3 separate regions of the Homo sapiens genome follow, and all the other regions are reported to be linked to region 2. Evidence: microRNA targets listed by miRTarBase, many of them from high-throughput screens and not tested one by one. Region 2 holds a microRNA gene; each other region holds the end of a gene's coding sequence.

Region 1 (4,184 bases), not on the chromosome of region 2:
GGGATTGAGGGGGCCGAGGGTGCGGGGCTGGAGGAGGGCAGCAGCCTGGGGCCCGGCCCCGCCCCCGACACCGATACCCTGAGTCTGCTGAGCCTGCGCACGGTGGCTTCAGACCTGCAGAAGTGCGACTCCGTGGAGCACTTGCGAGGCCTCTCGGACCACGTCAGTCTGGACGGCCAAGAGCTGGGAACGCGGAGTGGAGGGCGCCGGGGCAGCGACGGCGGAGCCCGTGGGGGTCGGCACCAGCGCAGCGTCAGCCTGTAGCCGAGGGGCCAGGGTTCCTGGCTTGAATCTGCCACCACGGGCCGGTTGGGGCCCACAGTCTTCTCACGCCCTCTCCTCTGGGGCCTCGTCTTCCCGAAGGTCCCCTTCTCCAGTGCTTCCCTGGGAGAGGCCAGCTGTGTTCGAGTCCTCTGTGCCTGCCCTGGCGTTCTCACAGCCTCCCCCTTCCCCTCAGCAGGCGGCTCTCTTTGCCTTACCCATTCAGAAGGCTCGCCCTCGGCGCTCTGTCTGCCTCTGCCTGCCAGCTCATCACGATCTGCAGGGCATTGACCCTTTGCTTTCCCTTTCTGCTCCCTCTCTTTCCATCTGTTTGGCTTTTTCCCTCAGGGAACTTGGTCTAGAAGGCACTGGGAAGCTCATCAGAGAAAATGGGTGCTGGGCCTGAGTACTCCCGTCGGAGGGGATGGACAGTCACCCCTCCCGTTGGTTTCCAGCCCCGCCCCCCTTCCCAAGGCAACTCTGGAGGGTACCCTAGGTATGCTGCTGAGCCCTGCCCCCCGTCCTGCTCCAGCCTGCCCGTGTGTAACCTGTAAGATGTACTGTGTGCCTCCGGAAGACACCACCTTTCCCTTCAGCATTCCCTTTCATGACCTGAGGCACTCTGCGATGTGTGCCCCAAAGCAGAACTTACAGGGCCTGCAGGAAGCTGGTGTCAGGGAGAGAAACCCAACCCCACTGTCAACATAGGGAGCATCACCAACTCCAGACTGGCTCCTGTGGGTATGGTGTTTCCGCTGGGCTGGGTCCTCAACATTGCCAAGGTGCTAGTGGGTCCCTAAGAGGGCCCATGTTGGGGGTGAAGTCATGAGGTCCTGAAGGCTTAGGCCCCTGTCATTCCCACCCTCACTCTTGCTGCACAGTTGTGTTTACTTTTTCTGGGTAGAGGATGCTGAACTGACTCAGCACCCTCCTGCAGGACGGGGTTAGGGAATTTGGTGCTCAATTGCTCTCCCTTGCTCTTCCCCAAACTGAAAATACCTACTGCAGGATCCCTCGGGGCACACTGAAGCTTGGCTGCCAACCCTCTTACTTCCTTTGTTACAGGGAGGGGTTGGCTTGGGGTGAAAAGTTCTGCCCTCCGCAGGGAGCAGCTCCAGCTGCCTGGCAGTGCTCCCAGTTTGTAGGGAAGCCACACCAGATCTGGGTGCCTTGGGAGAACCAGTCCTTCCTTTTGACCCACCCCAGGAAGATGGAGTGCTCTTTTCTAGGCCCATGTTCTGCCAGCAACCGGGATGCGTGGGCAACTGGACTCTGCACGGGGGTCTACAGGTTGAGGGAGGTTGGTCACAATGAGAACCTCGGGGTTTGAGGTGGCCATGGGCAGACAGCCGAAAGGGAGGGAGGGTGTGGGTGTGCGTGTGTGCATGTGCTGGTGTGTAAGGGGGAAAGGGTCTTTCCTGGTTTTATTTAAATAAAGTAGTTTATGTAACAGTTAACATCTACTGTCCTTGCTGGAGGAAGAGAAAAGGGGCAAAGATGAGGCAAGGGTTGGGCAAGGGAAGAGCAGGGTTAGGCGGCAGGCTTTTTAGATGGTGTGGTCAGGGAAGGGAGGTGAAGGACCAGATTGAGTGAGCTGCGCTATGCATGCTCTTGCGGGGGTGGAAGGCCCCATGGCCAGGGTGGTCATGTACAGGGCAAGTGTAGAGAAGCAGGGGAGGAGTTGGTGCCTCATGGGGCCATGCTGTGTGAGGTGATGGGTGCCAGGAGAGGGTTTGGTAGAAAGGGGCCTGCGGGGTGGAGTGGGCTCTGTCTGAGCTAAGAGATGAGAGTGCCAGAGGGTTGGGATCTTAGATGTGTCTGGATGTGAGCATGAATGTAGAGAAGGGACACAAGTAGTGATGCCAGATTTATCAATACAGTGAACCCACTGAAATTTCAGATAGGCAGTATTTTTGTCTGCTGCAGTGTTTAGGATGTACTTACATTATGAATTATCCGTTGTTTCTCTGAAATTAAAACCTAGATAAAAGGTGACTTCCAAGTCAGGGCTTGACTGGCTGGGGGATGGGAGGGGTTTGAGGGCACTTGAACTCACAGGTGGGAGATTGGATAGGGATGTGAACTCCAGGAGCTTTGAAGAAGAGCAAAAGGCTTTGTTTAGCCTGAGCTGCACTTGGAGTGTACCAGTATTTGGAGTTTTGTTGAGAAGAGGTCAGCCAAGGGAAGAAGAAGGTGCTGGCAGGGAGGAAGACCAGAAACCTTGGGGTCAAGGGGCAGGGTGAAGGCCAAGAATTGGAGGCACGCAATCAGAGCAGTGACCCTGGTGGCTGTGGACGCCATCTGAGGGGCCATCTGGGGCCGCTATGTGCTGAGCACTCACTGTGCCTTTGGATGGGTGCTGTCCAGGAGTTTGAGATTGCCTTCCCTGACTTGGCAGATGGGTGTCATAATATTTTATTACTAGAAAAGCTGCTATGAAAATGCATAGCATATGTTTTTGGGTGAGTGGGCTTTTTAAATTTTTTAAATTGTATGTATAGGAGGTGAACAACATGGTATTTTGATGCACATAATGAAATAGGTATCAAATTGGCCTATCATTTTGCAGTTACCTCCCCCCTTTTTTGTTGTGAAACCGCCTAAAATCTACTCTCAGCAAATTTTCAGTCTATAATACAGTATTATAGTCCTAATGAAGGGCTTTCTGAGATGACACACAGTGCTGGACTTCCCTACCCAGTCACTGGCAGGCAGGACCTGTGAGGCTCCTGGTACAGAAGAGCCCTAGAAAAGAAGGGCTATGCCATGCACGTGCGTTTCTCCTTGCAAAATCACCTAGAAGATGCGGCAGGCGGGAAGAGAGACCAGGAAGGTTAGAGCCAATGGTACTTCTAAGGAGAAGAAGACAGAAGCCGAAGAGCTCCCTCCCTCCCACCCTCGTTGTAGTAACTTGTACTCATCCAGTGCATTTCACGTACCAGGAACGCCCCTAATTAATCTCTACAACAATGTTATAGGACAGATAAACACTATGATTTCCTTTCCACGGTAAGAAAATAAGGCACAATGGGGGGTACTCAGCCTTGCTGAAGGTAACGGAGGCGGCTCCCACTAGGCACTTGGACTCTAGAGTCCAAACGCTTGAACCACTGGGCTCACAGGAACAGGAGGTGAGGAAGTGGAGGTAGTCATCTCCGAGGAAGTTTTGCTGGGAAGAAGAGATGAGAAGTGGGAATACTGTTTCTTAGCTCCTTCTCCCAGCAAAGAGGGTCGAGAAATTTTGTTTAAGGTGAGGAAGAGATGGTCAAGGTGTGGGGGACATAGGGCCCCATCCCCCATTCCTGTACTGTGTCATGTTACATGTTACATTGGCCTGTTGGTAATGAATTGTTCTGATCTTCATCTTCCTCAAGTGTGGGGCTGGGGCCTCAGTCTACCCAACACCTGACACAGGCTCTCACCAACAGATGCTCAGGAAATGTGCTTTTGCTTCTTGCCCCTTCTCTTAGCCCACAGCTGTATCAGGTGGGTTTATCAGTACAGCAGTTTGGAGGTCAGGACCTGGTGATGCACAATCCCAGGATCACATCTCTATGGGAATTCTCAAATTTCATGACGCTTCAATTTTATCGCCTATAAAATGGGAGCATAGAGGCATGTGTGGCATGCTGCTACATCAGTGGATCTGAGGTGCAGCGATTCCTGTTAGCACCTCTTCACAGCCTCGGAGTGCTTAACTCACGGAGGCTTCATCCCATCTTGCGCTAGGCAAGTGGACTCTATGAAAGGGTTGTGTTTCCCTCCTCATCTGGATATGATTTTTGACAAGCATGACAACCCCACTGCCTTTTTAAAAATTTAATTTTTAATATTTATTTTATTATGAGACAGGGTTTTGCGCTGTTGCTCAGACTGGAGTGCAGTGGTGCAATCATAACTCACTGCGGCGTGGGACTCCTGGG
Region 2 (4,184 bases):
ATGTGAAAAGTAAAATAACTCCTTTGCTCGGATTTCTTGCTGACATTTCTTTTTGGTGGGAGTCAGGGGTGGGAGTTCACTCTGAATGCTTACTATACCTCCTGCTACAGCTCTGTGGCATTTTCATAAAATACCAACCACCAAAATTCTAGTAATCACAAAAACATGTGCTTTCTCCTCATATCCACTGAAATTCTTTCTCTCATTAAAAAATAGAAGTCTCAGAAATGTAATTAGAAAGCTAAACTCGATATCTTTACATTCCTTTGGTTTCAAGGCGGGGGAAGAAAGCTGCAGTTTTTCTAATTTCCCTTCAGTTCAATGCTACTCTTGAATGGGGAAAATGATACAAAACGTCTGAAGAATTGAGAGTCTGACAAGAGGGGAGGATTTGTATTTCCTTGTTATTAAAAAAGAAGAAAAAGCCCTCAGTTATGTCTAATCTTTAGGAACGCAGTGCCCTGTCCAACCCACGAACTGTTGGCAGCATCATAACTCTACACAGAATGTTCTTTTAAGCTTTTCCCTCCTTCCCAAGCCTTTCCTGTGAAGTTATAAATCTCAGCATTTAGAGATATTCTTATGCAAATAAAGGAGGGACTTTAGGTTGGGACCTTTCATGTTGATTCTGCTGAGGGCATGCTAGAGAAACAGCCCCAAGAAAAGCAGGCGCACTTCCATGGCTAGGTTCTAGGTTTGACTTTATTTGTGAAACCCCATCTGTCCCTCCTACACCAAGTACCAACTCCAGGAAGCTGTGATTTAATAGCTCTGTGCCTAGAGGAAGTTTTACCCAACCCCTCACAACATCCTCCTGATTGTTTGGAAAGTGAAATGATTCTGAAGATCAAACTCTACCGCTTCTTGCACTGCCTCCTCTTCTGTGTATAGCTGACCTCCTCATTCCACCTACACAACACTCCCCTTAAACTTTGTTGCAGCAGGCAGAGCAGTGTGGCCTTAGGTGTAGGTGCACCTGGAAAAACCCCAAATAATGTCCACTTGAGGTCACATAGGCAAGCAGATGTCCTGAACCTATTGCTGCCCTTGAGTCAAAGAATCCTAATTCTCCTTATCTGGTTATTTTGGCTGCTCCGTGATAGTGACATATTTTTCAAAATACATTCATGTGCATTTTCTCCTTTGACCATCATAGCCCCATGAGCTGAGCACTCATATAACGTCCTCAGGGAGCATTCCCAGTGGCTTTGCTCAGGGACTCAAGCCAAAAAGGTGATGATGGGCTCTGACTTAGTACAGTGAGTTATCACCGAAAGGAAATGGGAAAAGAAAGAGACTGACCAAAGAGATCCAGCCAGGCAGCCTTGTGCAAGTGATTTAAACAACCTCTGCCTGTGTTTGCAAATCCAAAATAGAGATAATAGTAGTTAGTAACTCACGGGGTGTGTCTGCTTATAAAGTTGTAGCATATGTACCTATATGTAGCAGAATGCCTGACTCATAGAAAATATACCATAAATGTTAGTGGTTATTAATGATTATTATTAATGTATTGAACACCTATAGTATACCAACCTTTATTTCATATTTTGTTTACAACGATTCTAGTTGGTTTTCAATAGAATACATCACTGTTGGTATAATTACAAATGCACAGGCCTTTTTTTTTTGGAACAGAGTGTTGCTCTTGTTCCCCAGGCTGCAGTGAAATGGGGCGATCTCGGCTTACTGCAACCTCCACTTCCTGGGTTCAAACGATTCTCCTGCCTCAGCCTTCCAAGTAGCTGGGATTACAGGCACGTGCCACCACACCCAGCTAATTTTGTATTTTTAGTAGAGACAGGGTTTCACCATGTTGGTCAGGCTGGTCTCGAACTCCTGAACTCAAGTGATCCACCTGCCTCGGCCTCCCAAAGTGCTGGGATTACAGGCCTGAGCGACCGCACCCGGCTGGGCTTGTTTTCTTTTCTTTTTTTTTTTAATTATACTTTAAGTATTAGGGTACATGTGCACAACGTGCAGGTTTGTTACATATGTATACATGTGCCATGTTGGTGTGCTGCAACCCATTAACTCTTCATTTAACATTAGGTATATCTCCTAATGCTATGCCTCCCCCCTCTCCCCTTCCCCCACCCCACAACAGGCCCCAGTGTGTGATGTTCCCCTTCCAGTGTCCATGTATTCTCATTGTTCAATTCCCACCTATGAGTGAGAACATGCGGTGTTTGGTTTTTTGTCCTTGTGATAGTTTGCTCAGAATGATGGTTTCCAGCTTCATCCATGTCCCTACAAAGGACACGAACTCATCATTTTTTATGGCTGCATAGTATTCCATGGTGTATATGTGCCACATTTTCTTAATCCAGTCTATCATTGTTGGACATTTGGGTTGGTTCCAAGTCTTTGCTATTGTGACTAGTGCCACAGTAAACATATGTGTGCATGTGTCTTTATAGCAGCATGTTTTATAATCCTTTGGGTATATACCCAGAAATGGGATGGCTGGGTCAAATGGTATTTCTAGTTCTAGATCCCTGAGGAATCGCCACACCGACTTCCACAATGGTTGAACTAGTTTACACTCCCACCAACAGTGTAAAAGTGTTCCTATTTCTCCACATCCTCTCCAGCAACTGTTGTTTCCTGACTTTTTAATGATCGCCATTCTAACTGGTGTGAGATGGTATCTCACTGTGGTTTTGATTTGCATTTCTCTGATGACCAGTGATGACGAGCATTTTTTCACATGTCTTTTGGCTGCATAAATATCTTCTTTTGAGAAGTGTCTGTTCATATCCTTTGCCCACTTTTTGATGGGGTTGTTTGTTTTTTCCTTGTAAATTTGTTTGAGTTCATTGTAGATTCTGGCTATTAGCCCTTTGTCAGATGAGTAGATTGCAAAAATTTTCTCCCATTCTGTAGGTTGCCTGTTCACTCTGATGGTAGTTTCTTTTGCTGTGCAGAAGCTCTTTAGTTTAATTAGATCCCATTTGTCAATTTTGGCTTTTGTTGCCATTGCTTTTGGTGTTTTAGACATGAAGTCCTTGCCCGTGCCTATGTCCTGAATGGTATTGCCTAGGTTTTCTTCTAGGGTTTTTATGGTTTTAGGTCTAACATTTAAGTCTTTATGCATCTTGAATTAATTTTTGTATAAGGTGTAAGGAAGGGATCCAGTTTCAGCTTTCTACATATGGCTAGCCAGTTTTCCCAGCACCATTTATTAAATAGGGAATCCTTTCCCCATTTCTTATTTTTGTCAGGTTTGTCAAAGATCAGATAGTTGTAGATATGTGGCATTATTTCTGAGGGCTCTGTCCTGTTCCATTGGTCTATATCTCTGTTTTGGTACCAGTCCCATGCTGTTTTGGTTACTGTAGCCTTGCAGTATAGTTTGAAGTCAGGTAGTGTGATGCCTCCAGCTTTGTTCTTTTGGCTTAGGATTGACTTGGCGATGCGGGCTCTTTTTTGGTTGCATATGAACTTTAAAGTAGTTTTTTCCAATTCTGTCAAGAAAGTCATTGGTAGCTTGAGGAGGATGGCATTGAATCTAGAAATTACCTCGGGCAGTATGGCCATTTTCAAGATATTGATTCTTCCTACCCATGAGCATGGAATGTTCTTCTATTTGTTTGTATCCTCTTTTATTTCATTGAGCAGTGGTTTGTAGTTCTCCCTGAAGAGATCCTTCACATCCCTTGTAAGTTGGATTCCTAGGTATTTTATTCTCCTTGAAGCAATTGTGAATGGGAGTTCACTCATGATTTGGCTCTCTGTTTGTCTGTTATTGGTGTTTAAGAATGCTTGTGATTTTTTCACATCGATTTTGTATCCAGAGACTTTGCTGAAGTTGCCTATCAGCTTAAGGAGATTTTGGGCTGAGATGATGGGGTTTTCTACATATACAAACATGTCATCTGCAGACAGGGACAATTTGACTTCCTCTTTTCCTAGTTGAATACCCTTTATTTCCTTTTCCTGACTGATTGCCCTGGCCAGAACTTCCAACACTGTGTTGAATAGGAGTGGTGAGAGAGGGCATCCCTGTCTTGTGCCAGTTTTCAAAGGGAATGCTTCCAGTTTTTGCCTATTGAGTATGATATTGGCTGTGGGTTTGTCATAGATAGCTGTCATTATTTTGAGATCCGTCCCATCAATACCTAATTTATTGAGAGTTTTTAGCATAAAGGGTAGTTGAATTTTGTCAAAGGCCTTTTCTGCAT
Region 3 (4,000 bases), not on the chromosome of region 2:
ACCTCAAGTGATCCACCCACCTTGGCCTCCCAAAATGCTGGGATTATAGGTGTGAGCCACTGTGCCCGGCCAACACCTGCTTTTTGGGGTGGTTGTGAGGAGGCAAACAGTGTCCAGCAGGCCTGCCCCAGAACCCCACTTCATCCAAGGGGGCTGGGAGGTCTCTGATGAACCCAACCATGTGCCTTCACAGCCCCGTCATGTGCGTCTCCAGGTGTGAGACAATGGGATGTAATGACCATTGTTCTCGATGCCAGTAAAGCCATGCCTGGGCACATGCCAAGAGGAGGTTGGTGTCTGTTTACAGGACCTGCTTGGGTTGGCAGTTCCCATGGGGAAGGGAAGAGGCGTGGTGGGAGCTTGGCCCAGCTTGGCAAACAAAGCCAGTGGGAACACAAGCCTGTCCTCCTCCATGGCCAGGGGTGGAAAAAAGAGTGTGTAAAGCCAAGCCCAATGCCCCTCTTTCCATCTGTCCCCCAGATGTCCTACGCTTCGACAACACCTATAGCTTTGTCCACGCCAAGAAGGTCAGCTTCACAGTGGAGGTCCTGCTCCCTGACGAGGGCATGCAGAAATATGATAAGGAGCTCACCCCTGTCTAGGTGGCTCCCTCATTTCTCAGAGACCTCCTAACCCTTTGATTTCTCTGTTTATATCCTACACTCCCTCCCTCCCTGAAATTGATTGTTAGTCCTCCTGACTCTGTGACGTTAGTGAGTACAGAAAGAGATGCCCTGGGGAAAACTCATCTACTGTGGTCAGATCAAGAAAGGTATGAGAGGCACAACCTTGGAGGGTACCAAGGTTGCAGAAGAGGAAAAAGCAAGGGTAAAGGCAAGAAGTGGGTGTCATGAAACTCAATAAATAGCAAAATGAATCCCCTAGCCTTTGTCCTCACCTACCCTAAGGCAGGTGTGTATGCTTGAATTCCTTCCGTATGGCTGTGAGCAACTTGGGTTGGAGACATATCTAAATCCTTTTTACTTCCACTCCCTATATATAGTAGATGCTCAGTGTATATTTGTGGCATTGAATGGAGGACCAGAAGGTAGGGTGCAGGTGACTCAACAGCTGTACATGATTAGGAGGAGCCTATGTGGGGTGGATTTCAGCACCTTGGACAGGAGCAGATGTGTGGTGGGGTTGGACTCTCTTCTGGAGACCCAGACAATTCAGTCTCCAGATTTCTGGCAGTGGCTGTCTTTTGAGGGCCCCAGCCACAAAGGCCACATGCCTCTGATAGGAGCTGCCTACATCAGGCTTTGTCTGACTTGCACGCTCAGCTTCCCACCCTAACCCACTTCCCTTGTTGCACATAGCTTATGTTTTAGGGACTTTCCTGGAAGCAAAGGCAGTCACATCTGGCATAATCATAATAAAGAAAACAACTATCATTTGGCGAGTGCTCTCTGTGTACCAGAAACTGTGCCAAGAGCTTTGTGAGTTTAGCATGTTTTATTCTCATGCCATCCCCAAGGCCCTTTATGGATAAGGAAATGGAGGCTCAGAGGGGTGAAGCTACTCACTCAACATCTTACAGCTTGGGTGGCAGATCCAGGACCTGGGGCAGGGGGTGTTCGTTTGTTTGTTTATTTGTTTGTTTGTTTGTTTTTTGAGACAGGGTCTCGCTCTGTCGCCCACCCAGGCTGGAGTGCAGTGGTACAATCATGGCTCACTGCAGTCTTGACCTCTTGGGCTCAAGCCATTCTCCCACCTCAGCCTCCTGAGTAGCTGGGACTACAGGTGGGCATCACCACACTTGGCTAATTTTTTTGTATTTTTTTGTAGAGATGGGGTTTCCCCATGTTGTCTCAAGCTCCTGGCCTCAAGTGATTTACCCCCCATCAGCCTCCCAAAGTGCTGGGATAACAGGCCTCAGCCACCATGCCTGGCCTGTTTTTGCTTTGTTTACTCCAATGACATTGCTCTCAGTTGCCTTGTAATACCGCCTCCTGCCTATAATCCCAGCCCTTGGGGAGGCTGAGATGGGCGGATCGCTTGAGCCCAGGAGTTTTAGACCAGCCTGGGCAACATAGTAAGACCACATCTCTATCAAAAAAATTTAATATAGTAAGAATATGACCTCCTAAGATTCCACTTTTACAAAGGCAGTGAGAAGGCATGATTTATTTGTTCTAGACCTTCCAGTAGAAGTGTCCTGCATGTCACCCTCTCCAGTCCCTGTTTGTGGGTAGAGGAGGTGATAGGCCATAGAGACCCACAATACTGAAGCAGCTTGTCCAAGGAAATTCACAGCAGAGTGGGGCAGGGCTTGTGTTCCTCAGCTCAGCATCCTGTCCGCTGCTCACATGGCATCTGTGAAGCACAACCCCCTGACGCTCACCATGACCCTGGGTGACTAGGGCAAAGGCCAGGACTCCAGAGTTTCCTTCCCAACTTTCTGCTGTGATTCGGGGACGTGAAGAGGCTGGCTTGAGCCCCAGTCCCTGACACAACTCTTGCCAGGGGAGCCGGATCACACCCGGGAATGGGGATGAATGGGAACCAAAGGCTGGTGCCATGAGAGGCTCCTTGGAAACAAACAAACGGAGGGCTGAGCTCATCCGTGGGCAGGCTATGAGGTCTGACTCAGGCTAGTCAAGCAAATATTCAGCAGCAGCAAGCACTTTCCCACATGCACTTATGGGTGCAAAATCTGATATCTGCTTTATAGATGGGAAACTGAGCTCCCAAAGGCACTGGCCTTGTATCTTCAGCCTACAGGTGACAGAAATAGTCCTGGAGCTAAGGCTGCCCCTTACCCCGTCACCTCTTCACCCCCACCACTCTTCTATAACAATTTGTCAGAATGGGACAAGACTGCCTTCTTCCTGAGCTGGCAGGGAAGGAGGAGGGAGGAGGAAGGAGAAAGGAAAAAGGAAGGAAGAGAAGAGAAAATGAGGGTTGTCAGATTTAGAAAGGAAAAAAAAAAAAAAGCATGGCCAGGTGCAGTGGCTCATGCCTATAATCCCAACACTTTAGGAGGCCAAGGCAGGCGGATCACTTGACGTCAGGAGTTCGAGACCAGCTTGGCCAATGTGGTGAAACCCCGTCTCTACTAAAAATACAAAATTTAGCCTGGGGAGGTAGCACATACCTGTAATCTCAGCTCCTCAGAAGGCTGAGGCATGAGAATCTCTTGAATCCAGGAGGTGGAGATTGCAGTGGGCTGAGATCACACCACTGCACTCCAGCCTGAGCAACAGAGCAAGACTCCATCTAAAAAAAAAAAAAAAAAAAAAAAAGACATACTTAAAATGTATCCATTGTTTATCTAAAATTAAAATTGACCTATGCATCTTATATTTTATCTGACAATCCTACCAATGAGGGAAGATGGAGGGAAGAGAGAGGAAAGGGAGGAGGATGGAAAGAGGGGGATGGGTTCACCTTCTTGGAAGACGGTGGCAGCACCCACAATTTGGGCCAATGATGTCATGGAATCCTTGGGAGAGGATGGCTTAGTGTGGGTGATGCAGGGTCGGGGGACAGGGTGGTCTCACCCTTGACCACCAAAGGAAAGGCCTCGATGTTGAAGCAGGGTCTGAGGTAGAGAGTGTGGACCCTTTGTGCCTTTGGGACTAAGATGAGCAGTGCTGTTGCCAGAGCTCCTCTGTGGCAGCTGAGTGGAGGGGACTTGCACCAGGAGGTGGAGCAGTGCAAAGAACCTAAGGCCAGGGCCAGAGCTGAGATCTGCAAAGTGCCCATCAGCATCCGCTGATGCCCACCCCTGGCAAGCCAGCTCCCACTGTGTGCACACAGCCAGTAAGAGGCAGGCTTCCCAAGCTCCAGCTTCTAGCCTCCAGTCTTACTCAGGGTCTAGATGCTCAGCTCCAGTCCTGAATCTCCAGGAGGCAGCATTGGGGAAGGAAAGAGACCCACTTTGTAGCTTTGGCCAATGGTCACTAATAGAGTTTGGATATTTGTCCCCTCCAAATCTCAGGAGGAAATGTGGCCCCCGATGTTGGAGGTGGGGCCTAGTGGGAGGTGTTTGGGTCAT

Evidence for each region. The annotated mature microRNA hsa-miR-4319 reads UCCCUGAGCAAAGCCAC and lies in region 2 at 1,203-1,219, opposite strand. An mRNA with a match to its seed (bases 2 to 7 or 8) in the 3' UTR can be bound and repressed. Matches are read on the target gene's strand: a 7mer-m8 pairs with bases 2 to 8, a 7mer-A1 pairs with bases 2 to 7 and ends in A, and an 8mer does both.
Region 1: miRTarBase lists SH3BP5L as a target of hsa-miR-4319. Seed matches in the 3' UTR shown: 8mer at 605-612 and 7mer-A1 at 935-941.
Region 3: the mRNA of SEC14L3 is a reported target of hsa-miR-4319. The part of its 3' UTR that is shown has no 7-base or 8-base seed match.

Annotation. Positions count from the first base shown.
Region 1 is chr1:248,807,980-248,812,163 of GRCh38, reverse strand. SH3BP5L (SH3 binding domain protein 5 like) reads left to right here. Exons shown (of 7, transcript NM_030645.3): 7 at 1-1,718. The coding sequence ends at 264. Among named protein-coding and RNA genes, the nearest start is that of SH3BP5L, 16 kb to the left of the region's middle.
Region 2 is chr18:44,968,938-44,973,121 of GRCh38, forward strand. It overlaps MIR4319 (microRNA 4319), which reads right to left and starts at 1,229; the gene lies at 1,145-1,229. All of the region lies in intron 4 of SETBP1 (SET binding protein 1), which reads left to right.
Region 3 is chr22:30,456,623-30,460,622 of GRCh38, reverse strand. It overlaps SEC14L3 (SEC14 like lipid binding 3), which reads left to right. Exons shown (of 12, transcript NM_174975.5): 12 at 481-1,394. The coding sequence ends at 602. Among named protein-coding and RNA genes, the nearest start is that of SEC14L3, 13 kb to the left of the region's middle.